Linked DNA regions of Homo sapiens: regions 1 and 3 are each linked to region 2. The links come from fine-mapping of genetic effects on plasma protein levels. A gene starts in region 2. Each other region holds a variant in brackets. All regions are shown on one strand. Distances are from middle to middle. Region 1 has its middle 18 kb from the start of C1QB. Region 2 holds the start of C1QC (complement C1q C chain). Region 3 overlaps C1QB (complement C1q B chain).

Region 1 (11,053 bases), 28 kb after region 2:
ACTTGCCCGAAATTCTGCAATTAGTTAAGTAACAGAACCAGGTTCAACGCCCGGCAAGTCAGTTCTGGAGCTGCTGCTCTGTCACTGCAGACAGAAGGATCCCCGAAGGGTGGTGCTGGTGGCAGTTGCGGGCACTAGCTCTTGACTTAGACCTGAGTCCGAACCCTGCCTGGGCTTCTCACTAGCTGTGTGCCTCCCATCAAGTGACTGCCCTGGTCTCCTGTTTTACCCCCATACAAATAAACAATGCACCTGTGATGTCCTGGCGCAGATCCTTGATTCTTTTCTTGGATTAGACCCCTAGAAGTGGACTCCCCAGGTGAAAGGATATGCACTTTTGAAGGCTTTGAAATGTGTTTCCAAATGGAGGGATGGGCTGTCAAGGCTGAACATGCCAGGCCTGTTCCAGGCTTGCTGCCACCAGGGGGGAGCAGACACCAAGACAAGGACTGCCTGGAAAAGGGACCGGTGGTTACGCGGGACCGTGGAAACTCCTCCCTCCCTGCTCTCTTCTCCCCCAGGCCTTCCCACTCTCTGGGTGGGCTATGAACTTCCAGGGAGGTGCTGAGGTCAGCTTTGAAGACCCAGGTTCCTTCTAAACCAGCGTCCTCAACGTGGGGTCCCAGCATCAGCCTTGCCTGGAAACTTGTCAGAAATGCAAATTCTCTGGCCCCATCTCAGTCTGGCTGAATCAGAAAATTGGACGCAGGAGCCCAGCAGTCACCTGCCCAGGTGATTCTGATGCAGCCAAGCTTGGGAATTACTGCTTTAGACCAGGGGTTGCCTCCTTTTTCTGTAAGCAACCAGGAAATATTTTAGGCCTTGCAGGCCATACAGCATCTGTTGCAAGTATTCAGCCCTCTTTTTGTAACATGAAAACAGCCATGAGCAATATATAAATAAGTGAGCATGGCTATGTTCCAATACATCTTTATGAACACTAAAATTTGAATTTTACATAATATTCTCGTGTCACAAAATATTTTCCTTTTGTTTTTTTTTCAACCATTTAAAAATGTAAAAACCATTCTTAGCTAGCAGGCTGCACACAACAGGCTGTGGGCTGAATTTAGCCTATGGGTTATAGTTTGCCAACCTTCTCTAGTCCCAAATATGGCTCTAACCTTGGAAAAGAGGAGCAGGAAGTTGAGCCCAGCACTGCCTGACTCCCAAGTCAGTACTCCTTCCTGTAAGTTCGTCTGCCAGATCCCAACCTTGGGACACTGGCAGAAAAACTCTCTGGGTCTCACTGCCTTTAACAGTAAAATGAGCATTGCAATCTCTGTGCAATCTGAGGCACTGGGTCGCCTATTTTACTGTGCAATGAGATCCCCTAGAAACTTGCTAGCATGCAGTTACCATACCAGAGGTGCTGATGGTTCTGTTTCCATCAGATTAGACAATATCTGGAGGGGCCTGGGAATCTGCACTTCTCTCAAATACCTTGCTTTGGTTTCAAGGTGGCCCTCCACCTCCAGCCAGGGGCTGGGCTAATGAACATGAAAGCTTGAATAGCAGTAGACGCAGCCTCTTCCCCCAGGAATCCAGTGGCTATATGGGGAGAGAAAATGGGAAGAAGACTTTTTGTCTGTCAGCACCTACAAAAGATGAGAAATGCAGCGAAGAAGAAAAGCCTACGGGGCTTTGAGAGGCTGGGTTCAAATCTCACCTCTACCACTTACAAGCTGCGTGTTCTCA[G/A]GCTAATTACTTAACCTCTCTGGGTCACAGTTTCTTCATCTGTCACATGGGGGTGATAATCAGACCTACTCCAGAAAGCTGATGAGGATTAAATGGGATTCTGTGTGCAAAGCCCCTGGCACACAGAAAGTTCCCCACAAGTAGCAGCTGTCGTTATGGTGATGGGTTGTTTAGAATCAGGATGCTATGGTGGTGCAAGCGTTCCCCAAATTTTCATGTACACAGAAATCACCTGGGGTCTTGTCAAAATGCGGATTCAAATTCAGTAGGTCTGGGATAGAGGCCTGATAATTTGCTTTTCTAATAAGTTGCTGGGAGGCATTGATGCTGCTGAGCTGGGACCACGCTTTAGGTAGCCAGGGTTAGAACCAACCGGTGGTTCAGCATTTTGATTTGTTATGAAGTTGAATTCCGTCATCCATAGGCACCAGTTAGCCTAGGAGCTGGTAGACAGCAAGTGCTCTGTAATTAACATGTTACCCGTACTGTTGCTATCGTGCTCATTGTGATGATGTTCTGATGGTGAGGATGCGGGAGTTCAAGGTCAGGCAGAGGAAAGGACAAAGGGTGGATCATCGTTTCCCCAACGCTGAGCATTGTGGTCTCCCTCCTGTTTCTCCTCCATGCCCTCGCCTTTCTGGTCTCCTGCTGACAATGGAGCACCAGGTGCCCTGCCTTAAACCACCCCCCTACCCAACACACACACACACACACACACAAACATGCCATCCTTTCAGAGCAAGCTGCAAGCTGCATTTATCTTTGTGCATAGCCAGGAGGCATTCTCATAGACAACCCTGTTGACTAGATGCAGGAGAAAAGGGGGTGTTTGTTCGAGAAACCCAGCAGCCCACCCAGGGAGGGACACCCGCAGTGAGGGGACCTGGCAGAGCAGGAGGCACCCTGGATGGGAAGTAAAGAGCTCCCAGTTTTACGCTGGTCTCGGAACCTGACTTACTGTGCAACTTCAGACAAGTTGCTACCCCTCTCTGAGCCTCAGACTATCCCATAGAAAGAGGGGCTTGCATCAGACTCACCAGGGGAGCCTGTGATAGTGTCAAGCCCACCCCAAGCCTATTGATTAGGAACTAGGGGAGCTTGGTGATGCCCTCAAGAAAAGGGTAATGAATGGTGACAAGGTCACCGACCAGTGAGAAAGCAGTAGCCCAGTCCCTCGATTACACCTTACTTATCCAGAATCCTCAGCTACGCAGAACACGGCCAGGACCCAGGAGGGAACAAAGGAGGCCAAAACTGACATCTCACAGCCCAGAGAGCCTGGAAGATTCATGTTTATCAAATGAATGCATGAAAGCATGGCTATATTAGTTAATTAATTAATTGACTGATCGACTCCAGAGAGTATAGGACCTGGAGACAGATATACATAATATATGCTCAGTGAATAGCTGCCAAACGGAATGAAGAAAGGTAAGATGGAAGGACTGTCAAAATTATGTCCTGCCTGGAAAGATAGGGCCTATACTAATAATGTTTCCTAAGCCCTTGGGACAATTTCCAGGGGAAGGCTTGGCATCTGGAAGGAAAGGAAAGCAGGCAGGGAGAAGCCAAACTGAGCCTCATGAACGTACCCGTTGTGCAGACATTAGCCCATGTCATCCTCACAGCAGCCCCTGATGTGGGCATCATTACCACTGTCCAGAGGCAAGGACCCAATGGACAACTGAGGCCCGAGAACCTCCAGAGAAACCCACTAGGGCTCAGAGAGCATTCAGGGCTTTAGGAACCTACCTTTCTTTCTTTCCTTCCTTCCTTCCTTCCTTCCTTCCTTCCTTCCTTCCTTCTTTCCTTCCTCCCTCCCTCCCTTCCTCCTTTCTTTCTTTCTTTTCTTTCTTTCTTTCTTTCTCTCTCTCTCTTTCTCTCTCTCTTTCTTTCTTTTTCTTGAGACAGAGTCTCTCTCTGGCTCCCAGGCTGAAGTACAGTGGTGTGATCTTGGCTCACCGCAACCTCTGCCTCCCAGGCTCAAGCAATTCATCTGCCTCAGCCTTCCAAGTCACTGGGATTACAGGCGCGCACCATCACACCTGGCTAATTTTTGTATTTTTAGTAGAGACGGGGTTTCACCATGTTGACTGGGCTGGTCTCGAACTCCTGAGCTCAAGTGATCTGCCCAACTCGTTCTCCCAAAGTGCTGGGATTACAGGCATAAGCCACCATGCCTGGCCCATACTTTCTTTGTAGCCTCCACTCTCATTTCTGTCTACGTCTTCCTGCCTTTCCAACCACATTTTCCCATTGCTTTTGCAGATTCTTCTCATTTATGTCTTCTCATCACTTTTTTTTTTTTGAGACAGGGTCTTGCTCTTTTGCCCAGGCTGGAGTGCAGTGGCATGATCATGGCTCACTGCAGCCTCAACCTCCCAGGCTCAAGTGATCTTCCCACCTCAGCCTCCCAAGTAACTGGGACCACAGGTGCACACTACCATGCTCGGCTAATTTTTGTATTTTTTGTAGAGACGAAGTTTTGCCATGTTGCCCAGGCTGGTCTCAAACCCCTGGGCTCAAGCAATCTGCCCTCCTCAGCTTCCCAAAGTGCTCAGATTACAGGTGTGAGCCACGGCACCCTGCTTCATCACATACTTCTCCCTATAATCTGCCTTACAGCATCTGTGGAGCAAGAGAGGACGTAAACAAGTCAACCACCAAAAAGAAGGCAAAGGAAGCAAAGCAGGATGCACCAAGCAACTCCGACGTGTCAGGTGCCATGCCAGGTGCATTGTGCAGGTTCCCTCACTGGCTTCTTGCTTGAGCCCTACCGAGTTCATTCCTGCTTTGCCACCTTCTAGCTGGATGACCTTGACAAGCAAGTCGCCTCGACTCTGAGCTTTTATATCCTTGGCTACAAAATGGAACTCTATTGGCTACTATTGTTATGAGCATTCCATGAGCTAGTGTATGTAAAGCACCCACCTGGCACATAGTAGACATAAAATAAAATCTGGCTGTTATAAAGAAACACAAGGCTGGGCACAGTGGCTCACGCCTGTAATTCCAGCACTTCAGGAGGCTGAGGCAAGTGCATTGCTTGAGCCCAGGAGTTCGAGACCAGCCTGGGCAACATAATGGGACCCTATATTTACAAAACATAAAAAAATTAGCTGGGTGTGATGGCACACACCTGTAGTCCCAGCTACTCGGGGGGCTGAGGTGAGAAACTCTGTTGAGCCCAGGAGGTAGAGGCTGCAGTGAGCCATGATCACACCACTGCACTCCAGCCTGGGCAACAGACCAAGACCCTGTCTTAAAACAAAACAAAACAAAAGAACCACACACCCTCCCAGACACATAGTAGGCCCTCAACAAATGTTAGCATCCTCACCTGTGGAATGTGACTATTGGTTGTTGTGAGGTTCAGGTGAGCCACAAGAGGCAAAAATCCTGTGCCCACCTTAGGACAAATTTTTCCTTCTCCCTCCAGCCTGGATTCCAGCCATTCCAACAAGCCCCTGCCTCTGCAGGGCTTGCGGCGGCAGCACGTGAGCCGTGCCACAGGGTGGGTCTGTCTGCAGGCTCCAGGCCTGAGTTAGCATATCTCGGGGCGGGCTCCCCATGCCAGCACAGGTATCCACAGGAGAGACAGCTGGGCCCTCGTTAACAAGGTGTCTCCAGACCTTATTTGGAATACGTCAGCTACTGTGATTAAAGACAGTACATAAATGTCAGCCTCGCCGGGCCCCAGCCCCAGCTGGTTTCCGGGGAAGGAGACCAGAAAAATATGTCTTCATTCCTTCTGTTTTACAGCTTAGGCCATGATGGCTTTATACAGAGCGAGTTCACCGTGGTGGAAACCTGCGCAGGTCCTGCCAGGCGTGGGGAGTGGGAGAACAGTCTCCCATTGAGCCCCCCGCCAGGCCAGGCCTGATTGTCGTGTGACCTGCAGTCACTTCTCCCCTTCAGAGCCTCGGTTTCCTCATCTATAAAATGGGGACATAATATATGTGCCCATGGGTTCTTAAGAAATAAAGATCACCTTTGGAAGCTGCCCAGGGTAGTCCCTCTCCAGGAGCAGGCACTCACTGCAACCAGGAAAACACAAAAAGGGGCACACTGGGGAATGGAGCTGCCCACTTTGTAGACACAGGTGCTCAATGAATGGCCCTTTCCTTGGATCCAAGTGGGGAGAGACTTTGACATTCTCAGTGAAACAACATTGAAAGTAGGTAATTGGGGGCAAAGTAAGGTGCAGGAGCACTGCTCCCAGAGTCACTGACTCACTGTGTGACCTCAGATAAGTGACTCCAGTCTCTGGGACTGGGTTTCCTCATCTGTAAAATCCCTGGCCCGGCCGGGCTCTTCCTTTTGGAGCACTGTGATAAGGCCAATACCTGGCCTCAGTTTCCCAATCTGTAAAATGACGGGACTGGACCAGATGATCTCTGGCTCATCTCAGCTCAGGCACATGGAATTTTTTCCAGGAAGTGAAACAATGGTCAGGACTAGGCTGCGTGGAAAAGGGAGATTTCATGATTAACGCAGGGGCAGAATCCCATGGCAAGAGAAGCCGTTCTGGAGAGTGGGGTTATGTACCTGAGGTCACACAGTGCGTAGGTGACTCTGAGACCAGTGCTCCTGCCATTCCTATGGCAGGAGAAGCCCTTGATGCTGTTGGAGTCCCTCAGGGAGGCAGAAAGATAAACCCAGGGCAGGGAGAGAGCTCACCATGCTGCAACCCGAGCACCAGACAAAGGTAGCCTGGGAGACCTGTCTCCCAGTCCCAATGGCAGGATGAGGGCAGGGGAGGGGACTGGAGATGCCTTTTCACAAATTGCTTCTGAACCTCAGAAAAAGAGAATAGCCTGGCACCAACTTTGCTCCTCCCTTGTTCCAGGTTTTGTTCCAAACACTTTACACATCTTCACTCATTTAATCTCCATGAGGCAAGTGTGACTGTTATGCCCATTTCACAGATCTGGAAAGTGAGGTATAGGGAAGTAATTTGACCGAGTCCTCACAGCTAGCCCACGGCAGAGCTGGGGCATGGACTAAGACAGTCTGGCACTGAAGCCACTCTCTTGAAGTATCAATGATGAAGAGCACCATTTAATGAGCACCTACTATGTAACAGGTGCTGTGCTGGCTTCCTTACAGAATGATCTTCATTAACTGGGACAGCATTCTTACGAGGACGGCACTTTGTTACTCACATTTCATAGAGGAAGAAATGAAGGCCCAGAGAAGTGAAGCACCTGGCCTTGGTCACAGAACTGGAATGTGGCTGAGCTGGGATTCTGACCCAGGGCCCAGGCCCCTTCCATGCCACCAGGCTGGACAGGACCCCCTCTGCAGAAACTCTGAGTAGAGGCTAAAGCAAATGTCAGGAGACAGAACACAGCTATGTCTTGTGTAGAATGGTAGGAAAGTCTGTCAGGTGGTCCCGGGACAAGAAAAGGCATCCAGAACACAGCTGGGTGTTGGGGAGATCCCTATGAAGGATGTCTGGGGGCTTTGAGGGGCTCTGGGGGGCTTCAAGGGGTTCTGGCAAGCTTCACACAGCATCAGAGTCGTGAAGGCAGGTCCTCTGATCGAGGGCCTGCTGTGTCCTGGGCACTGTATTAAGTGCTTTGTATTCATTATTGCTCAATTCTTACCGTGGTAGGAATGGCATAGATCTCATTACTATCATCCCCATTTCATGCATAAGGAACTGAGGCTCACACAGGCTCACACTAGTCCAGGGTCACATAGCTAGCAAGAGCCAAACTCAGGTCCCCCCGTTTAAAAGCCAGTGCCTTTCCAATGGGCCAACCCTTCCTTCCCAGGTTCAAAGTGCTCAAGCCACCCAAACCGCATGGCTCAGGATCTGGTGCACGGCAGGTCCACGGCCTTGCCCCTTCCTAGCTCCATCCCAGGACCCTGAAAGGGTTAACTTCCCTGTGGCCCCAGGTCCGTCCCTGTCAGCCCACCACCCCTGCCCCTGCGTTATGAGGACCAGACCAGCTCTCGCTCCCGGCAGCTGACGAGTTCTCCGCTCAGTGGTTCGCGCTCCAGATATTAAATTACTCATAAAATATTTGACCTGTCCCCAAAGTGGCTGCTGCCTCCTCCCTGTGCCCACTGCTCACTTCACAACAGAAGGTCACACTATTCCATGGGGGAGGGGCCCTTGGAAAATGAACCCAACTTCATCTTGGGGGATCTGGGAGCCCAGGAAGGGGTAAGCTCTGGTAAGGTTGGGATGTTCCAAGGGCAAGGATTCTGTCCCCCATTCTGGGGCCCCCCGGCCTGGCCTGAGCAGAAGACTATGCCCCCAAATCTCCATGCTGCAGGGTACAAAGAGCCCAGAACTGCTGACTGCCCCGAGTCCCTCAGGATAAGGCCAAGGGTGACCTGGAATAGGTTCCCATTGTCTGAGGGACGAGTGGTCTCTCCTCTCCTCCTCCCTCCCCTCCTCAGTTGCCATGGCAACCACAGTGGGGGGTGGGAGGCTGGACCGCTCAGCTCCTGGCCGGGCTACCCGGCATGCTCTGCTTTCACCCAGTTTTCTCCCTCGTTGCCCCTTGGCAGGCAGGGGGTGGGGCAGACCCAGCCCTTTCACGCAGCGGAGGGTTTGCAGCCAAGGAGCATCACCTCCCGTTCCCTGCCTTCACGCAGGAGGTTTTCCGGCATGGCCCCCAGGAATAGGACTTTTCTGAGTATGGTTTATCAGATAATGATTTTGGGGAGGGGTCTCTCTCAAGCCCCCTGGAGTTAATGAAGTCAGTTAAGCCCTGGGATTAGAAGGTCGGGGTCATGGGTACAGCCCATGTTTGCAGAGTAACGCCCCACCCCACCCCTAGCTCCCACCAGCTGTTTCAGAAATGCCTAATGCTGGTCGTCTAGGGAACTAGTGAGAGGGTCTGGACAGGACATGGCAACCTCATCCTGAGTACCCACAGTCACAGTCCCTCAGAGTATATACCCCGCAGCCTGGGCATTGGGAGCCTCCTCTCTTTCTTCCTGCCCCCTCATAGATGACACATTTTTCATAATAGTAGTGTATATATTACTAGTAAGTTCTTATCACCCTGGCCTGGAGTTTCATAAAGTAATACTGAAAGAAACTGGGTTTAGCCTTTGTCGTGGCTCTACTTGGGGTACACTGCCACCAGGTGGCGGTAGGCACTTTCCAACTACTCCCTGAGATTCCAGAAGATGATATTCCACTTTTACATTCCACCACCACAACCTATAAAATGCCATTGCTTTTTTACTTTTATATTAAGATTACAGGACTTTATAAATAGCCAAAGTTAAGGAGGCTTTAAACAAACTCTATGTTTTGGTAGTATAGCATAGCAGACAGCACAAACTCTAGAGCCAAACTGCCTGAGTTCAAATCCTGGCTCAGCCACTTGCTAGCTAGTTAACCTTGGACAAGTTACTTCTCTGTGCTTCAGTTTCTTTATCTGCAAAATGGAGATGATGGAAAGCAACTCCCTCGATGCATTGTTTTAAAGACTCAATGAGTGAATGTACATGAAGCATTTAGAACAGTGCCTGGCACAGAGCATTAAGCTCTTTAGAAATGTTGGTTATCGATATTTAAAGATGAGCATAAGGGAAAAGTTTCAAAAACAGTTCATTTTGAGACCCACGGACATATCTTTCTCTGCTCAATCTTTTATCTGGTGTTTCTAATCTGGTGATTCATTTCAGGGCTGCCCTGCTAGACACCCATCATCTGCCCAGATGCCTCTTCCAGCTCCCTCAACCCCACATTCAAGCCCATATCCTAATGCCTTTACCTCCCGGGTGTCTGTGGGATTGTCCCCTGCACGCCCTGTGCACAGCCACCCTGATCTCATTCCTGAACCACTGCAACTGTCCCCCTGCCTCTTGCCTGCTCCCCTCCAACCATCTTCTCACCGCTGCCACAGTGATTTTTCTAAAACAAAAATATGCCTCTACTCAAATGCCCTCCATAGCTCCCCAGTGACTCAGTATCAAGTCCAGGCTCTTCAGGTAGGTCCGTCTCCTCATCTCCCACTCCAGCTTCATGCCCCCATCTCCACTGTCAGAATGCCATGCCCTGGTTCCAGCTGCCTCCTTGTAGTTCTCCCAAAGCCTTGGGCTCCCAGGCTCTGTAGCCTGGGCAGGGGCTGCCTCCTCTGTCTGCATCTCTTCCTTCCTTCTCCTGCCTGCCCATCTCCTGCCTGCTAAGCCTCAAGATGTAGCCCCTGTCTCCCTTTCCCTGGGAAGCACTTATGATCCCTCCACGGCCTCTGAACCGGGTGCAGACCTTTCTCGGCATGCCCAAAGCCTCTGCATGCTGGAAAGGGGCTGTCTCAGTTTGTTGGTATCACCAGAGATGCCCTGCACACAGCAGGCCCTCAGAGTACCTCTAAGGAATGAATCCAGAATGTCCATTTTGCCAATTCGGCCTACAATGTCCTCTTTCCCATCTTCTCCGTCCCAGCATCTCTTTCTAGGTCTGGCTCAAATATCACCTGTTTAGGAGCCTCCTGGTAACCCGCACGCCCATGTCATCCCTGCATTAACTATTTCACTCTCTCCTCAAAGAGGCAAATGCAATAGGCATGAACTTGACATGTGTGGAATGAATGAACAAATGACCAGGATTATGGTCTAGACCAATGTTTCTCAACCGGGGTTGGCATCCCCCCAGGGGACATTTGACAATGTCTGGAGACCTTTTTGGGGTCACAGGGTTGCTACTGAGATCTGGTGGTGGAGGCCAAGGATGCTGTAACACCTCCTGCAATGCACAGGACCGCCCCCAACCAGAAGTTATCTGCCCTAAATGTCACTTTCTCAAGGCTGAGAAACTGGGCTAGAGCTTGTTGCCTACAAATCTGTCTTCCTAGTACGCAGAGGGCCCCAAGCACTGAGCCTGATCTTATTTCTCCTGATTTTCTCAGTACCCACCGCAGAGCAGGCACGCAACAATTTTTTTTTTTTTGACACGGAATCTCGCTCTGTCACCCAGGTTGCAGTGCAGTGGCACGATCTCGGCTCACTACAACCTCTGCCTCCCGGGTTCAAGCAATTCACCTGCCTCAGCCTCCCGAGTAGCTGGGATCACAGGTGCACGCCGCCACATCCGGTTGATTTGTCTGCATTTTTAGTAGAGGCGGGGTTTCACCGTGTTGGCCAGACTGTTTACGAACTCCTGACCTCAGGCGATCCACCCGCCTCGGCCTCCCAAAGTGCTAGAATTACAGGCATGAGCCACTGCGCCCAGCCAACAGTTTTTCAAAATAAGCTCATGGGTGACATAATTCTTGTCCTTTTCCTCTCCCCAGCTTCCACCTCTCACTAGGAGCTTGGCCTCAAACTATTGTCAAAAGCCCCTTCTGGGACTATTCTTGCTAAGTCCCTCCAGTTTCTGCTGCCC
Region 2 (8,000 bases):
CGACACGGTCATCACCAACCAGGAAGAACCGTACCAGAACCACTCCGGCCGATTCGTCTGCACTGTACCCGGCTACTACTACTTCACCTTCCAGGTGCTGTCCCAGTGGGAAATCTGCCTGTCCATCGTCTCCTCCTCAAGGGGCCAGGTCCGACGCTCCCTGGGCTTCTGTGACACCACCAACAAGGGGCTCTTCCAGGTGGTGTCAGGGGGCATGGTGCTTCAGCTGCAGCAGGGTGACCAGGTCTGGGTTGAAAAAGACCCCAAAAAGGGTCACATTTACCAGGGCTCTGAGGCCGACAGCGTCTTCAGCGGCTTCCTCATCTTCCCATCTGCCTGAGCCAGGGAAGGACCCCCTCCCCCACCCACCTCTCTGGCTTCCATGCTCCGCCTGTAAAATGGGGGCGCTATTGCTTCAGCTGCTGAAGGGAGGGGGCTGGCTCTGAGAGCCCCAGGACTGGCTGCCCCGTGACACATGCTCTAAGAAGCTCGTTTCTTAGACCTCTTCCTGGAATAAACATCTGTGTCTGTGTCTGCTGAACATGAGCTTCAGTTGCTACTCGGAGCATTGAGAGGGAGGCCTAAGAATAATAACAATCCAGTGCTTAAGAGTCAGGCCCGTCCTTAGTATGTTTTTTTGTTTTTTGTTTTTTAAGATGGAGTTTCTCTCTTGTCACCCAGGCTGGAGTGCAATGGAGTGATCTTCGGTCACTGCAACCTCCGCCTCCCGGGTTCAAGCAACTCTCCTGCCTCAGTCTCCCAGGTAGCTGGGATTACAGGTACCTGCCACCATGCCCCGTGAATTTTTTGTATTTTTAGTAGAGAAGGGGTTTCACCATGTTGGCCAGGCTGGTCTCGAACTCCTGACCTCAAGTGATCCTCCAGCCTTGGCCTCCCAAAGTGCTGGGATTAGAGGCATGTGCCACCACGCCCAGCCCATTCTTAGTATTTCACATGATGTGTTTAGCATGTCCTAGCAGCCTCATCTACCCAGGTTCGAATCCTGATGCCACCACTTATTAGCTGTCTAATCATGTGCATGTTAACCCAGCTCTGAGATCTCAGTTTCCTCATCTGTAAAGTGGGACTGATGATCCCAAAGGGTCATTGGGAAGATTAAATGACTTAATATATGAAAATTGTAGAGCAGTGCTCAGTTTATAACAAGGGCTATGGAAATTTTTGCTATTATTATATTTTATTTAATCTTTATGACCAAGCTCTGGGTATGGTATGATGGCCCTACATTACAGATGATGAAACTGAGGCTGCGAGGAGTAGGCATCAATCAGCAAATCAGCATCTAAGGGGAGGATCTGGGGGCCAGTCACAGTGGCTCACGCCTGTAATCCCAACACTTTGGGAGGCCAAGGCGGGCAGATCACTAGAGGTCAGGAGTTCGAGACCAGCCTGGCCAACATATAGTGAAACCCTGTCTCTACTAAAAATACAAAAATTAGCTAGGGGTGGTGGCGCACACCTGTAGTCCCAGCTACTTGGGAAGCTGAGGCAGGAGAATCACTTGAATCAGGGAGGCAGAGGTTACAGTGAGCTGAGATCGCGCCACTGCACTCCAGCCTGGGTGACAGAGCGAGACTCCATCTCTTAAAAAAAAAAAAAAAAAAAAAAAAATTGGAGGGTGGGGAGGCGGGAAGGAGCTGAGATTTGAACCCAAGTCTTACTGATGCCCAAGCCTGTGTTTAACCACTACCCTCACCAGCCTCCCTGGCTTCTATGAAGCACATGACACATCACACAGGTGCTTTTTCAACCCTGTGTTGGGAAGGCAGGGGCAGGAATCAGAGAGGGGAAGCAATTGGCCCAAGGGCACTCCGCAGTCCTTCCTGAAGCTAGGTTTCCTGAGTCCAGCCCTGGGCTTCCACCTGGCAGGTGTGGAGACCAGGGCTGCTGCCTCTGCTGCCTGATGGACATTCCGCCCAGGCTGGGGGCTGGGAGAGTCTTGAATGCTCACAGTGCATTCCAGGGCCCTATTTGTCTGTCTGGAAGCTACTATGAAGCAGCAAACCCCACCCTGTCCCTCGAATGCAGGAGAAATAAGGGGGCCAGGAGTTCAGATCTGAAAATGTCCAATGCACCATGCAGTTTCTCAAAGGAAGCTGGGTTTAGCTTTGTGCTGCACACACACACACACGCACACACCAGTTATGCCTTCACACCCACAGACACACTCAGGGAGGCACAATCCATCATACCACACAGCCCCTGCCTCAGACATACAAGTAACATCCATGAACCATCGCATATTCTCTCTCTCTTACGCATGTGTCCCAGACACACTCCTTTCACCCGGGGACACACATCCTCCTCACTCCAGCATGCACGAGCCTCAGAATGCCTGTGTTCTCTCCCACACGGACCCCCCACCACCCACACATACACTCAAACTCCCACAGGGCCATCCTCAGAAACACGGGCTGTCCCTCCCATCCACTGCCAGATGCACAAATGGCCTCATGGTCCTCGAGTGCACAACCTGAATACCCACCTCTAAAGTACAAGACCCCCTCCTGGGACTGCCCCTGCCCTGCCAACAGGCTTTGGGGGTCGGGAAGAAGTGAGGGGGGCCCAGGGAGAGGATGAACCCTCCACAGCCTCAGGGTAGCCCTCAGCTCCCTTCCAGAGTCAGCTCAGCCCTGTTCTCCCCCCGCCTCGCTCACCCAGAACACACACTGTTTCACAGGCACCGGGAAAAGAGACAGGTCTTCGGGAACCTAACGTGCTGGGCATTCCACGGCCATTGATGTATTTAATCCCAGCAAAATCGATGTGGACACTGAGGCTCAGAGAAAGCAGACATCCACCCAAGGACACACAGCCAGAAAGGGGAAGGGCCCTGGGGCTGAGCCAGGGGTGCCTGACCCCACAGGGTTAGGGCACGCAAAGAAAATGCCAGGGGTGGAGGCTCCATCAGCGGCAGTAGAGGCCAAGCTAGAGAAATGGGGTGTGCAGTGAGTGCCCGGCCACCCCCTTACCCTAAATCCTACCCATACCCCACCATCCACCCACTACCCCGATGCAAAATCTCTGGCCCCTCTGGGAGGGGAATGAACTGGAGCTGCCCGGAGCGGGGCCAAGTGGGCGGGGCACGGGAGGGTTGAGCGTGGGCCGAGGCTGCCACCTGCTGGACAAGCCGAACCCAGGCGCAGAGGAGGTGAAGAGGGAGGAGAGGAGCCCAGAGCCGTTAGGCTGGGTGGCCCCCAGCCCCATAATGCAGTATCCATCATTTCTTCTCGGCCCAGGCTTCCACCCACCAGGGACTCCTAGGGCCAAGTGGGTTCATGCCCCTTAACTCACCCCACACTCTCTGCAGTCCCATGGCACGTGGTGGAGACACAGAAGGGGAGACTGAGACCCTGAGGGTTCCTCAGTGAGGCAGGGGAAGAGCTCTGAACACCTGCCCATACCTGGCACGGGACAAGGCATCACACGTGTGTTGTGCACTGAATCCCAGCCACTGGCCTGGAGCTGTAAGAAGCCTCCATGTTACAGAGGGGGAACCAATGGACACAGGTGGCAGGTGTGGGGTCGAGGCTGGAGCCCTGCTACTGCCTGACAGCCCCTTCATCCCTAGAATCTCATGTGAGGAGAAGAGGGAGAGGGGAGAAGGCCTCTCAGCTCTGCCAGCCTGGTCCTGATGGGGAGCCCCTCACCAGCCATGGTGGGCTCCAAGCCCAGAGGCAGGGCACCCCCAGGATGCAGGCAAGGAGGGTGGTGTTGGCAGGGAAGATGGAACCGTCAGGGAAGACCAGGTGCCCCAACGAAGGAAGAGGCACCAATACTGAAAGCCAAGGCCACCCCAGTAGACAGAAGGGAGGCCAGAGGGACCAGTGATTTGCTGAAGGCATCTGGTCCATGCAGTGACAGGGCTGGAAGGAGAAGCCAGGGCCCTGGCTCTGTAGCCAGGGCAGCCCGTGCACCACAACAGCTGCCTGCCGCCAAAGCGGGTCCATCCTGGGGGTCCACCTCCAAGTGTGGCCACTGGGATGGGGCACATGGAAGTTTCTAGAACAAGGCTTGCAACTTGACAAGTGCATGTGAGGCTTGTTTCTGGGGGCAGCTGAGCAGAGGGGTCAGAGCAAGGCTTTGGGCCCCAAGAGACCACTCAGTGTGTGACTTTGGGCAACGGTGTACATCCTCCTGAGCCTGTTTCCTTATCTGTAAAGGGGGATAATAACTTCCTCCTAGGGATTCTGGGAAAACTGAGTCTCAGGCAAAGCAAATGCTAACATTGGTCATTAGATGGGATGAACCTGACTCTGGGGGACGTCTGTGCCCTGGGGGCTTGTGTTTATACACACACACACACACACACACACACACACACCCTCAGCCAGATGCTGGGGCAGGGGACAGTTCCTCATTTCGGACACTGACTGCCGGTGGGGGGATGTGGATGGGGTATTGCTGTGGTCAGTCTGGCTCAGCACCCAAAAGAAAGTGTCAAGTCAGGGAAAATTCTGGGAAAGGGGATGTGGGATTGGGGGAGGGCACGAGAAGGGGAGGGGGCCCAGCCCTGCTTTGGGCAATCCTTGCTCTGACCACTCAGACACCGTGTCCTCTTGCCTGGGAGAGGGGAAGCAGATCTGAGGACATCTCTGTGCCAGGCCAGAAACCGCCCACCTGCAGGTGAGGCCCGGACCCCTGCCCAGGTATGGGCAGATGGCCGTTTCCTCCACCTTCCGCCACCTTCCTGAAATGTGGTGCCAGGGGCAGCTTGGTGTGTGAGGGGAAGGAGGGTTCCCACTCCTGCTGGGCCCCGGGGCCTGGGCTGAAGAAAAGGCCCCACCATCCATCCATGGTGAGGCTCCTGGGGGAGGAAGGAAGGCGAGCTCCCGAGGGCTGAGGAGGACGGGCCCTGGGGAATGAGAGGGTTGGGGGCAGGTGAGGGGCTGGCGGGGACAGCTCAGCTCTCTCCCTCCCAGTTCCTTCTCCGGGATGGACGTGGGGCCCAGCTCCCTGCCCCACCTTGGGCTGAAGCTGCTGCTGCTCCTGCTGCTGCTGCCCCTCAGGGGCCAAGCCAACACAGGCTGCTACGGGATCCCAGGGATGCCCGGCCTGCCCGGGGCACCAGGGAAGGATGGGTACGACGGACTGCCGGGGCCCAAGGGGGAGCCAGGTGAGTCTGCTGGCCTGGTTTGGGGGTTTGGGTCTGGGGCAGGGATCAGAGTGTCTGTCTGGGGCTGACCAAGGGGGCGGGGGACAGCAGGAAGTGCTTGCCTTGCTGCCACGCCTGCCCCAGGGCAGAGGTGGACTCTCACGGTGTGTCTGGCTCCTCTATCCTCAGAGCCCAGGCTTCAGGCCACCCCAGAGGTGACCTTGGGCCCAGCGCACTTCCATCTTCCTTCTCCTCCTTACCCGATTATAGGGAGGGAATAAGAGCGCCTGCCCCCAAAGGTGGCCAGGAGGCTCACAGGAGACAGTGCAGGGAAAGTCTTCTTGCCCTGCAACATGGGCACCTGGGGAAGCTGGGGCCCACACAGTGAATATATCCAATGCACGACTGCCAGGGTTCAAATCCCAGCCCCTACTGATTCCCTCTATGTGAACCCGCACAAGTTACTTAACCTCGCAGTGCCTCAGTTTCCTCATCTGTAAAACGAGGAGATGGTAGCACCTGCTTCACAAGGTTGCTGTGAGGATTAAGTTAACTTAAATATAAAACAGCCCTGAGCACCTGGGAGGTCTATACAGGTGTAGGCTATTTTATCATTGGTTTTATCAGATATCCATGCTCACCTCCCTCCTTAGGATTCTGGATAGTTGGAGGGGTGGGGAGTAGGAGGTCAGGATCGCAGCCAGAGAAACTTCTGTTGGAGGTCCACAGGCAATCCTTGGCATAAGAGAAGGGGGCTGAGGCTATGAATGGGTGACTGGGGCTGGAACTGGAGCCCTGGGGGGTATGAGTGCCTTGTCTGTGAGTGAGCTGGGCACGTCTCAGATGCTAGGCATGCCTGGAGCCGGCCTGGGGTGACACTGAGCGGAGGTGATGGGGTGACAGAGGCAGTGGAAAGGAGGGAGGCCAGTTGAGAGGAATGTCCTTAGGAGTGGTCCCACCATCATCTTCCCTCCTGGATAGAGGGAATGGCACCAACATTCCAGAAGGAATTCTCCAATTTAGGGTGAGCTTAGGGTGAGCTCAAAGCTCAATGAGGCCTCCAGGTCTGCCATTTTCCAGGAGCTTGTACTTCACAGCTGCCTCTGACCACCTCCCTGCCCAGGGTAGCTGATGGCCACCCGTGATTGAGCCCCCAAGTCCCAGGTGTGGTCTCAGTTTTAGGAAATGATAAAACCGAGGCCACAATCCCTTGAAAAAGTGATTGACCCTCATTTTGCAAATGTCAAAGCTGGGGTTCAGAGAGATTGAGCAACTTGTCCAAAGTCACACAGTGGGATCCTGTCCAACTCTCAAGTCCACATTCTCCACCACTGCCCTCAGCTGCCTCTCAAGTCCCCTCTGTATTGCTGTTTCCTGGCCCCCTCTCAATTGGTGGTTTGAAGACATCACGAAGGATGAGACGCTGCTCTGCTCAGCATCACTGGCAGCCATCACGAGGACCAGACACTCCAGAGCACGCTTCCTATGGTGTGCCTGGCACAGTGCCTGTCCCACTCCACCCTTTCAGGGACTCCCTCTTCTATTATGCCCGTATCTCAACTGAGCAAATACAGGCTCAGGGAGGGAGGTCACCCACCCAGGGTCACAGATGTGAAGGCCAGGTCTGCTGGGTCCCGACCCCACACTCCTAATGCTGAGGCCTAAGAGGTTCATAAGCCATAGAGGATCTGTCATAAATGGGTCTGCACAGTCACCCAGCCTGACGGAAGTCAGAGGAGGAAAGGAAACATGAGGGCTGATGGGAGCGGTCAAGGAGGGCTTCTTGGAAGAAGAAACTGGAGTCAGCCCTTAAAAGATGAGTATGATTTAGATAAGGGGAGAAGAATCTCACAGAGGCTCAGATCATCAGGGCTGGAACAGAGTGAGACACTGGGATTCTCCAGACTTGAGTTAGAGACCTGACTCCACCTCAAACTGGCTGCACGGCCTTGGGCAAGTCTCTAACTCGGCTTCCTCATCGGCAACATGAGGGAAGTTGAACCAGGCCAGCTGTCATGGGGGCTGACGTGGGCTGAATGGGGCTGGGGTGAGCTGGAGAGAGCAGGCCCTGCAGTGGGGCGGCTTCTATTCGGCTCCTTCCAGTGGTTCCCATGTGCTAACCTGGGGAATCCATCTCAGGAGCAGATATAGGTTTTGTGGGACTCTGAAGCTTGTAAAATGTTGAGGGTCTTCTTTATGAAAAATAATACAAACTGAAAGATGCGCTTGATTGCAGAGGTGAGAGTGGTTACAAAAATTTACACATGTAGCAAAATTATATTGGAACCACACACACAGTGTATATAAAACTGGTGAAGTCTACATAAGCTTTGTGAATTCTAGGAATGTCAGCTTCCTGGTTTTGACATTATACTTTAGTCATACAAGCTGTGTCACTGGGGAAAACTGGGTGAAGAGTCCCTGTTCTTTTGTTTCTTCAACTTTCTTTGACTCTATATTTCAAAATAAAAAAGTTGAAAAAAATCAGAAATACAAAATTAGGCAAAAGGTCTTGAAGGGGCTGATGCAAGTGGACAGAACCTGAAACTTAAGCTGCCTCTGACCAACCTTCTGATTTTTTGTCAAGAAGGTCTGAGAATTTCAAATTTTAAATAAGTTCTGAATTTGTTCATGTTGGGCTCCAATTAAAAATTTTAAAAAACATTGTGCAGGCCAAACAAGATACTTGTGGCCACATGCCATCTGTCCGTGGGCTGACAGTCATGGCATCTGTGATCCCGCCCAGCTCTGAGCTCCCTACTTGCTTCATCACAAATGTGGAAACTGAGGCCAAGAGACAGGGAAGTGCCTTAGACAAGGTCAGAGGGCAGGTCAGTGGAGAAGCAGGACTTGAACCAGACTCTCTCTCTCCCCTCCAGCCAAA
Region 3 (11,053 bases), 16 kb after region 2:
CCTGGCTCAAAATTTATCAGTAAACCAGAGGCAGGAGTGGGATTATAAGCCAGTCGCTCCTGCCCGGCCCAGCATTTCCCCAACACCTTGCTTATTTCCTCATACTCGCTGAGAAAGCTCAGCTTGACTCTTCCAAAGAAATAAGGGGATGTGCAGGTAGAGTTACGATGAGTTCTCAGCTAGTACTGAGTGAGCGCAATGTTTGTGCAGCTGGGGAGTGGGATGTGGCACTGCACGGGGCAGGGGGGACCTTATTTCTTCTAAGCGCCTTCTCCTGTCATCCTTCTGGCAGCCCTGTCAGGTTGAAATCAGCATTGCCAAGAGGCTCAGAGAGGTTAAGGCACTTGCCTGAGGTTATGCAGCCGGTAGCAGATGGGGCTTTAAAGTCAAGTGGGCCTGACTCCATGTTGCGGAAAGGGACTGCTGGACCGAAGGAGATGGAAAGGTCAGAGCCTGGGGGGAGGACAGGAGAAACCGCGCTGGCAATGATGATGGGCTGGCACAGGCAGGAGGCAGTTAAACCAGATGAGTTGTAAGCCCTAACCCAAGGCTGAAACTCGGTGGCTTTTGAAATGGGCTAGAACCAGCACTTTCCCACTCCCCCTGCCCCTGGCTTCCCCAGGAAGCCCAAGTCCTGTCAGTACCCTGCTCCCCACCCTCTCTCCCCACCAACTGGTCACAGCTCTCCACCCCTTGCTGCCTCCAACTGACAGAGCCCCTCCCTCTAAACACAGTCTTTCAAAGGGATTGTCTTTTTTTACTTCTCCAACCATCTTCCCTTCTGTTCAACCACTCAGGAATTCTTGGATGACAGTGATAATAATAAAATAGCTAATATTCATTAAGAATTTCCAACATGCCAGGCTCTGTTGGAAGCTGTAACTCATGTCCTCGCACATACCCTATGAGGGAGAGAGTAGCATTATCCCCACTTTATAGGAGGGTAAACTGTGGCCAGAGAGAAGGAGTGATTTCCCAAGTCCCTTAGCTAAGAAGCAGTAGAGACCTTATGTGAACGCTGAGTGTTGCTTTCCTTGTGACACTACAGGCTCCCGCCACCAGGTGAATGTGTGCTGCCTAACAAGAGCAGCAATCATCGTGGTGGTAAAAAGCCACTTTCACCGAACACTGACCATGTGCCTACCACTACCCTTGGTGTGTCCCATGCATTAGTCCTTTTATCAGGCTGTCTGGCTTCAAAGTTTATGTTTTTACCACCAGGTACAGTGGCCTCTTAACATAACATTGAGTTTTAAGATCCAGTGGATGTGGGTTTGACTCCCAGCCACACAGGAGCTGTGTGACTTTTATCAAGGTGCTTGCCCTCTCTGATCCCGTTGCCTCATCTGTAAAATAAGAAAGCAAGAGTGCATTCTCAGGGGCTGAATATCAAATTACAGGGGATAATGGCATGCAAGCCATCTGGCTCAGAGCCTGGCCTATACGTACCCAACTTATTAAAGTTGTTAAATTGCCATTTTGTAAAACCTTTAGCAAGAGCAAGAGTGAGAGCTGATGCTTATTCATGGATAAGCAGGACCATGCCCCTGAGCCACCCTGTCTTCAGAGCATAGAGCCTGACAGAACCTAAAGCTGTCACCAGCATTCCCTGGCCACACTCATCTTTACAGCTTCCTTTCCTTGGTGCACAGTGTCTGGCATAACTCAGGGCTTTCAGCAAGAAATTGATCAGGACTAGGCTGAGGGGCTGAGGCTGGTTTGCAGAGCATAGGAGCCAAATATCAGTAGGCCTTGTCTGGTCCCAGGGAGCCCTCCACATGCCAGACTCTGGGGTTGGGACAGCCAGCATGTGGCAGAGAGGGTAGGAGTTTGGCCACAACCCTGCTGTTAGAATAGTTTGCTGGGTGATTTTTGGGTAGGTTGCTTTCTAAGTTCCGATCCTCAGTTTCCTCATCTGCAAGATGGGAAATTAATCACAACCCACTTCCCCAGGGTGTTGAGAGGATCAGAGAACAGCAGCAATAGCAGTAGCAGCCACAAGTCCCAATGAGAGCTTGGGGCTCAAGGCTTTATGACTCTTTCCCATCCATGGTCTCACCTGGGTCCCTGTGGCCACTCTGGGAAGTAGGCAGAGACCACTCTGCTCCCCCATTTTAAGAGAGGATACAGTTCAGCCTCTGAGGAAAGGTTTCCTGGAGGAAGAAGGCTTTGACCCAAGCTTCGAATGAAGAAAAAACATTTGGATCTGGGCAAAGGTGGAATGGGCTGCCTCGAGAGGTAATGAGCTGCCCATCACTGAAACGGTGCAAACTATGGATGGAAGAGCCCTTGGCAGAGATGTCATTTCCTCACACTCTGCTGAGAAAGTTCAGCTTGACTCTTCCAAGGAAATAATGTGATGTGCAGCTAGCGTTGTGATTAGTTCTTAGGGCTGAGTGAACACAACGTTTGTGCAGCAGGGGAGTGCGTTGAGGCACCACACGGGGGACCTTGGCAGAGGTGTCATTGAGGAAACTTAAGAATAGGCTGAAGGGTCCTCAGGAACTTAAACATGGAATTGCCATAAGCGGTAATTCCTCTCCTGGGTATAAACCCCAAAGAATTAAAAACAGATACTCAAATCCTTGTTCACAAATGTTCATAGCAGCACTCTTCACAATAGCCAAAAGGTGGAAACTTCCCAAATGTCCACCAATGATGAGTGGATAAACAAATAGCCAAGCGAGATGGTGCGTGCCTGTAATCCCAGCTACTCAGGAGGCTGAGGCAGGAGGATGGCTTGAGCTCCAGAGTTCGAGACCAGCCTGGGCAACAGAGTGAGACCCCATCTCAAAAAAAACCAAAAACCCCAAAACCAAATTGTAGTGTGTAAGTGGAAGGTCTGTAAGTGGAAAGACACAAACGGTATTTTCCTCTGCTCTCACACCACAACAATCAACACAGAAGACTTCTGTGACCAAATGTGGGGGGTTTCTCCCCACACACCAAGCAAGCAATCAAATCTGCTGGGTGTCTTTCCACTCAGTTCTGACACTGTCTAGGAATAGCATCAGACCCCACAGGCTGAGAGCTCAGTCCCACAAGACTGCTCCCCCTCAGACACCATTTGCAAGTCCAGGCCCCCAGAACTTCTGACCAATCAGCTTCAAGTTGGGGTTCTCACAACCCCCTGCTTGGGTTTGGATTCTTTGCTAGAGTGGCCCACAGAAGTCGGGGAAACACGTTTACAAGTTTATTATAAACAATACTATAAAGGATACAGATGAGATGCTCAGGGTGAGGTATGAGGGAAGAGGCGTGCCACTGTCATGCCCAGGTCCCTGGGCATGCTGCCCCCGAGGAACCTCCTCGTGTTCAGCTATTTGGAAGCTCTCTAAACCTAGTTCTTTGGGATTTTTATGGAGGCTTTATTATGTAGGCACGATTGATTAAGCCATTGACCATTGGTAATCAATTTAACCTTCAGCCCCACTCCCCTCCCCAGAGGTTGGGGGGTGGGGCTGAGAGTAGACCCTCTAAGCCTGCCTTGGTCTTCCTGGTGACGAGCCCCATCCTGAAGCTACCTAGGGGCTGGCAGCCATCAATCAATCATTAGCATACAAAAATACCTCACTTTGGAAATTCTAAGGATTTTAGGAGTTGTCTGCCAGGAAAGAGGTAGAAGACCAAATATATACTTTGCAATATCACATGTACCCATACAATGGAGTATTATTCAGTTATAAAAAGGAATGAAGTACTGATACATGCTACAACATAGAAACATGGATGAACCTTGAAAACATTACCCTAAATGAAATGAGTCAGACACAAAAGGTCACACGTTGTATAATTCCATTTATATGAAATAATAGGAATAGGTAAATCCATAGGGACAGAAAGCAGATTCATGGTTGTCAGGGGCTGGGGGAAGGAGGATTGAGAAGAAACTGCTTAACGGGCATAGAGTTTTATTTTGGGGTGATGAAAAGTCTTGGAACTAGATGGAAGTGAGGGTTGCACAAGACTGTGAATGTATTCAATACCACTAAAATGCTTGCTTTAAATTGGTTAATTTTATGTTGTAGGAATGTTGCCTCAGTTAAAAATATATAGGCTGAGGGTTAAACTAGATGAACTTAAAGGCCACTTTGTCCTGAGAGCTAATGGCATGGAACACTGGCCATGCTGACCAGTTTGAGACAGCCCACCGGCTTCTTCCTAGTTCTTTGGGATTAAAAAGGGGCCATCACTGCCCTCTTGCCAGAGTCACAGCTCTGAGAATATTCTACCAGCAGAAACAGCCTGGTATGCTGGCAGGGACATCGGCTTCATTCCTTCCTGTATGACTCTGAGCAAGTGACTTGGCCTCCCTGAGCCTCAGTGTCCCCTTTGGTGTAGGAATCACAGTAGATGCAGGGATGCTCTAAGCATGCAAGGTGGCCCGTTCATAAGCAGCATCATACCCTGAATTCAGAAGCTCTACTGAATAAGAGCTTTCGGGGAATAAAACCCCAAACTCATAGTAGCTTAGTTGCCTCTCCACTCTTGCTTCCTGTCACTTGAACTCTTGCTCCCCTCTGTCATACTGGCCTCCTGCTGATCCTCAACATCCTAACCTCTGTCCTGCCTCTGGGCCTTCTCCATATTCTCTGTCCTCCTGGAACATTCTTGCCCCCACCTTTTCTGGACCTTCAGGTCTCAGCCTAATCATCACTTCCAAGAGTGGCTTCCCCTTGGAGAAGACTTTCCTGGTGGGAGGACTTCCCTCACAAAACCCACCACCTCCCACCTCCAGCCCAGTTACTCTGCCTCCCAGCATCCTTCTCTTTCTTTCAGAGCACCAATCACGGTCTATCACTATTTCTATTTACTTTATGCTGACCCATTTATATCTACCTGTTTATATCTGTCCCCACTAGGGGCACAAGTCCAGGAGGGCAGGGACTGTATCCGTCTTGTTCTTCACTGAATCCCCAGCACCTTGCACAGAGTCTGGTAGATAGGGGACAATCAGTGAACATATGGATGGAGGAATGGATGGATGGAGGGACAGATGGAGGAATAGAGGGATGGATGGATGAACGGATGGATGGATAGATGGACAGAGGGATGGAGGGATGCAGGGGCAGAAGGATGGATGGATGGATGGATGGAGGGTGGATGGATGGACAGATGGACAGAGGGATGCAGGGATGGAAGGATGGAGGGATGGATGGATGGACAGCAGGATGGAGGGATGGATGGATGGATGGATGCAGGGATGGAGGGGTAGAGAGATGGATGGATGGATGGAGAGGAGGATGGATGGATGGATGCAGGGATGGACAGAGGGATGCATGGGTGGATGAATGGATGCAGGGATGGAGGGATAGAGAGACAGATGGATGGATGGATGGATGGATGGATGGATGGATGGATGGACAGGGGGATGGAGGGATGGATGCAGGGATGGAGGATAGAGAGATAGATGGATGGATGGATGAATGGATGGATGCAGATAGAGGGATAGAGAGATGGATGGATGGATGGTTGGATGCAGGAATGGAGGGATAGAGAGATGGATGGATGGATGCAGGGATGGAGGGATAGAGAGATGGATGGATGGATGGACGGATGCAGATGGAGGGATAGAGAGATGGATGGATGGATGGATGGATGGATGGATGGATGCAGATGGAGGAATAGAGAGATGGATGGATGGATGGATGGATGGATGGATGGATGGATGGATGGATGATAGGATCACCACGGTGGTAACCTCTCACATTGTCTTCTCCACAGGAGGCGTCTGACACAGTATGATGATGAAGATCCCATGGGGCAGCATCCCAGTACTGATGTTGCTCCTGCTCCTGGGCCTAATCGATATCTCCCAGGCCCAGCTCAGCTGCACCGGGCCCCCAGCCATCCCTGGCATCCCGGGTATCCCTGGGACACCTGGCCCCGATGGCCAACCTGGGACCCCAGGGATAAAAGGAGAGAAAGGTACCATGGGATTTAGCAGGACACTGGTAATACTGACCAAATTTCCCGTCTCCTGCCTCCCAAGTCACAGTTGCCTACCTTTGAGACTGCAAAAGCACTGGCAAATCCAGCAGCTTGCTGAACCCTTGCAGTAACTTTGCAAGGAGGGAATTCTGATTCCCATTTTACAGAGAGGAAAACTAGCATCTAGAAAGTCTGCTGACTTACTCAAGGTAGCCCAGTAAATGTTGAGGCTAAGACCAGACCACGGATCTCTTACCATTAAATTCAGGTGGAGAGGGAGTGCCGCTGTGGCCACAGAGTCCTGTGTTTAAACTTACCTCCTGGGCAAATGACTTCTCTCTGAATTGCTATTTCCTCACCTGTAAGATGGGGGCAATGGTACTTTTTTGGGGTTGTCATGGGGTTCAAATGAGACTCCCAGCCTTGAAAACCCCTCTGTAAAATTTGGTTTATTCATTCATTTAACCTACCGTTATAGAGCAACTGTCTGTGCCAGTCACTCTCCTCACATAATCTCATCTAATCCTTACAATCCCACAAAATATCTTCATCCCCATTTCACAGATGAGGAGGCTGTCCTCAGGAAATGTGACTCAGTCAAGGTGACACCACTACTAATGGCAGATGTGACACGCAAAGCACATCTCTCTGTCCCCAGATCCCATCTTCTCAGGCCCTATTCTCTGCCACTCTACTGGAAAATCGGTCTTATCTTGTGTTGTGCCAAACCAAGGGGTAGTGGCTGCTTGGGGGGTGGAGTGAGAAGGAGTCTAAAGTCCATTTCCAGGAGCAGCAAGAGTGAAGGCCATGGTTGATTAGGGATGTCTGCCAGGGGTGAGGGATAGAGGGAGACAGCACTCATTATCCCTGCTCTAGCTGAAGAAGGACCCCCACACAAGCTGGGGAGGAGGGCCGGCCTAGCACCTTCCTTAGCAAGGAGCCATTCCCCTCCCCACGATCAGCAGCCCCCAAGAAGGTCAAGCATATCACAGACTCAGGAAGCTGGGCTGGAGGGAGACCCAGAGCCCCTGCCTGACACTGCCTCCTTCGTTTTACAGATGGGAGACTGAGGCTCAGAGAGAGGCAGGGCCCTGCCCAAGGTTCCAGCGCAGGCCTCCTTCTTTTGGTCTCAGTGATCTCACTTCTTTGGTCTCTGCTTTTCCAGGGCTTCCAGGGCTGGCTGGAGACCATGGTGAGTTCGGAGAGAAGGGAGACCCAGGGATTCCTGGGAATCCAGGAAAAGTCGGCCCCAAGGGCCCCATGGGCCCTAAAGGTGGCCCAGGGGCCCCTGGAGCCCCAGGCCCCAAAGGTGAATCGGGAGACTACAAGGCCACCCAGAAAATCGCCTTCTCTGCCACAAGAACCATCAACGTCCCCCTGCGCCGGGACCAGACCATCCGCTTCGACCACGTGATCACCAACATGAACAACAATTATGAGCCCCGCAGTGGCAAGTTCACCTGCAAGGTGCCCGGTCTCTACTACTTCACCTACCACGCCAGCTCTCGAGGGAACCTGTGCGTGAACCTCATGCGTGGCCGGGAGCGTGCACAGAAGGTGGTCACCTTCTGTGACTATGCCTACAACACCTTCCAGGTCACCACCGGTGGCATGGTCCTCAAGCTGGAGCAGGGGGAGAACGTCTTCCTGCAGGCCACCGACAAGAACTCACTACTGGGCATGGAGGGTGCCAACAGCATCTTTTCCGGGTTCCTGCTCTTTCCAGATATGGAGGCCTGACCTGTGGGCTGCTTCACATCCACCCCGGCTCCCCCTGCCAGCAACGCTCACTCTACCCCCAACACCACCCCTTGCCCAACCAATGCACACAGTAGGGCTTGGTGAATGCTGCTGAGTGAATGAGTAAATAAACTCTTCAAGGCCAAGGGACAGTGGTCTAATTCAACTCTGTGTCCCAGCACCTGGCACACCAGAAGTGCCATGCTCAGAAATGTTGGTTACATGAATGAATGAACCATGAATGAATGAAATCTCTGTCCGTGTGCTGCTCTGTGCCAGCCACACAGTGGGAGGTGGGGGTCCAGCACCAACTATGCTCCCAGTGGTAGCCTACACCTTTTCCTGATTCTCTCACTAATCCTCACACTCCTCCTGGGAGAGGGCGCATCGTGCCCAGCTTACAGAAGAGCAAACTGAGGATCAGAAGGGATGAAGGGATTGTCCACAATCTCACAGCAGGGCTGGGATTCAAGGGCAGGCCTGCCCATTGATGGCCTGAGACCTTTTTTAAAGGCAACATGTCTAGGCCAGCCCCTAAAGGGGTTCTGTGCTTGTCCCTTCCTGTTACCCCTACCAAGGATCAAGGGGTCATCCTCCAAGGCTTTAACTGACCTTGGAGCAGGAACCTTTCCCTTTCTTATTCTCCCCACATGCCCTTCCTCCCAGTATCTTCTCAGCCTAGCACAAACTCAGCCATCCAGTTAGAGTAAATGTCACTCCCCCGCTCAAAAACCTTCAGTGGCTCCCCACTGCCCACCAGATACAGTCCCAGCCCATGAACTTGGCCTTCCAGCCTCACTCTACTGGGCCTTTCTGTCTTCTAAACAAGCCCACCTCAGTGCCCTTCCTCGCACTGTTCCCTTACCTAGAAGCCTTCCACTCTGCCCATCTACCCATCCTCATTCAAGCCACACCTCCTCCCTGAAGCAGGAACACCCTAGCTCTCGCACGCTCACTCCTCTGGCCTCCTCTACCCCAGAGCGTGCACAGCCAGCATTTGGCTCCTCACCCTGTCTCCCCAGCTAGGCTGTAGCTCTGCACCCTGCTCATCTCTGAGCCAGCACAGAACCCATGATGGACAGCAGCCACTCAGTAAAGATTTATTGCCTGATTGGCTGAGACCACAGGACTAGGACTCCAGAGTCCCGCCCAGCTCTGCACCTGCTCTCCTCAGCCTCTCCTACTAGCCCCAGCATCAAGACCCTCAACCAATCCTGACCTGAGATGGGAGGGATTTAAGATAGTCCCACCCGTGTCAACCAGTCCAGCCTCCTGTTTGGCTGGCCTGTCTCTCAGGATTCCATTCATTGGGTGCAGCTTCTGCCCTATCTCCTGGGCCTGGGGCCTGGCCTTGATGACCTGCCCTAACCCCAGACTAGGTCCAACCGAGACCTAGAATCTTTTCTCCAGGAGCTGGCCCTTATTTCTGCTGCTCAACCCTTTCAATGCAAACTGCCTGGCCTTTGACTCTAATACTAATAGTTATGATAGTAATGGTCACACCACAATTGAATTACTGTGTATCTAGTGCTTTGCGCACATCAGCTCATTTAATTCCCAACCACAACCCCTAGGAGGAACATAGTATCATCCTCATGTGGTTACATGACAAAAAATATAAAACTCAGAGAGGGCAAGCAATTTGTCCAGGG[T/C]CACAGAGCTGACAGCTACACAGCCAGGTTTGGAGCCTGCTTTTGTTTGCCTCAGATTTCATCACCTCCTTGCCATCCACATCTGTTGGAACCCCTTCTGCAGCAACCCCCCTCTGCAGCCCCATGACCTCTCACCTGAACCCATCTGACCTCAGGAGTTCACATTCTCGAGCCTCTGCAGTTGGGTCCATCCTTGCTAGGCTACACTGCACCCGGAAGCAGAGCTGGCTGCTGGTGTCGAGCATGCGCAGAGCACCCCATCTTGCTGCACAGACCCAGGCAGAGCCGGGCTTGTCTGAGAAGTCAGAGCTCCACGCTCCTGCCTGCTTGTCTCGGGAGCTGCTGTCAGGCCGCCTGGCTCTTCTGCAAGACCAACCCTCCTCGGACCCCTGACCCATAAACCCTGACCCTGCCCCCTGTCCTCCACCAGACCCCCGCAGTCAGGACACTCATAACAGTGCCCTTGTCGGGCCCTCCCAGGAGCTTCCAGACCTGCCAGAAATCCAGGCTCTGACTGTGTGTCTAGCCATGGCCATCATAGTCCAACATCCCTTGCTCTACGCAGACGTGCATGCATCTCGACTCTTCACATTTATTTATTTATATTTATTTTTGAGGCAGGGTCTTGCTCTATTGCCCGGGCTGGAGTGCAGTGGCGTAATCATGGCTCACTGCAGCCTCGATCTCCACGGCCCAAGCAATCCTCCCACTTCAGCCTCTCAAGTAGCTGGGACTACAGGTGTGCACCACCACACCCAGCTAATTTTTGCATTTTTTTGTAGAGATGGGGTTTCACCATCTTGCCCAGGCTGGTCTCGAACTCCTGGGCTCAAGCAATCCACCCGCCTCAGCCTCCCAAGGTGCTGGGATTATGGATGTGAGCCACTGCACTCAGCCTTCACCTTTATCATGGCTCTTTTCCAACCAGTTGGGATAGGGTTGCTCCTACAGCTCTCTGGGGAGATGAGTGAGGTTTCATTACAAGAACCTGGACCAAGAACAGTGTGGGAACCCAGAAGTGATCTGAGATGAGTCCTGGTAGCTCACCTGTTTTATCACTGCCCAGACACCTTCCTTTTCCCCTTGGTCCCATTCTCAGAGGCAGTGGGACTCAAATCTTCTGCCTGGGCTAGCAGTTGGGCAGGGAAAGGAAGGGAAGTGGCTCTCCTCAGGCTTATGACCCTTGAACCTCATGCACCCCCTTGATCCTGACCCCCATCCCTCAACATGCCAGAACCCTTTTACTTGCAAGTGACAGAAGCCCCTTCAAACAAACTTGGGAGAAAAAAGGGAGTAATCAGAAGAACCCAGGAGCAGGGGAGCTGCTCAGTCTCAGTGGACACAGGGTTGAGACCTGGGTGCCCCCCAGACCCGGACTGGGATATTACTCTGAGACCTCTCTTTTCTGCATCTCTCTCTGCAGAACTGCCCTCTCAACTGTGAAGGCAAGCGGATGCCCCCAGATGACGTCTGGACCCCCAAGTTAGCCCCCATCTTTCATAGAAGTGACACAGAGTCTAACATCTCCAATCCCCAGTTCCCAGGAGAGAGATGCAATTGCCCCTGCTTGGAATCAGGATACTCCTCGCCCAATCAGCTGAGGAGTAGATCATTCTAATCCAGTGCTTCTCAAACTTCAGCAAGCATCACAGTCACAAGAAGGGCTTACTAGAATTTGCATTTTCTAACAGTTCCCATAGGGTGCTGTTGCTTCTGGATTTGTTTGTTTT

Evidence for each region. PIP is the chance, under the fine-mapping model, that this variant and not a neighbour inherited with it causes the effect. Protein levels are from the aptamer-based SomaScan assay of Sun 2018.
Region 1: its variant is fine-mapped to the plasma level of the C1QC protein (Sun 2018, PIP 0.95).
Region 3: its variant is fine-mapped to the plasma level of the C1QC protein (Sun 2018, PIP 0.95).

The regions. Positions count from the first base shown.
Region 1 is chr1:22,665,523-22,676,575 of GRCh38, forward strand. No RefSeq gene overlaps it. Among named protein-coding and RNA genes, the nearest start is that of C1QB, 18 kb to the left of the region's middle. The variant G/A (reference allele first, on the strand shown) is at 1,699.
Region 2 is chr1:22,639,068-22,647,067 of GRCh38, forward strand. It overlaps C1QC (complement C1q C chain), which reads left to right and starts at 4,566. Exons shown (of 3, transcript NM_172369.5): 1 at 4,566-4,647; 2 at 4,944-5,137. The coding sequence starts at 4,957. C1QA (complement C1q A chain) reads left to right here. Exons shown (of 3, transcript NM_015991.4): 3 at 1-611. The coding sequence ends at 340.
Region 3 is chr1:22,653,716-22,664,768 of GRCh38, forward strand. It overlaps C1QB (complement C1q B chain), which reads left to right. Exons shown (of 3, transcript NM_001378156.1): 2 at 5,725-5,928; 3 at 7,097-7,922. The coding sequence starts at 5,748. The coding sequence ends at 7,671. Among named protein-coding and RNA genes, the nearest start is that of C1QB, 6.0 kb to the left of the region's middle. The variant T/C (reference allele first, on the strand shown) is at 9,324.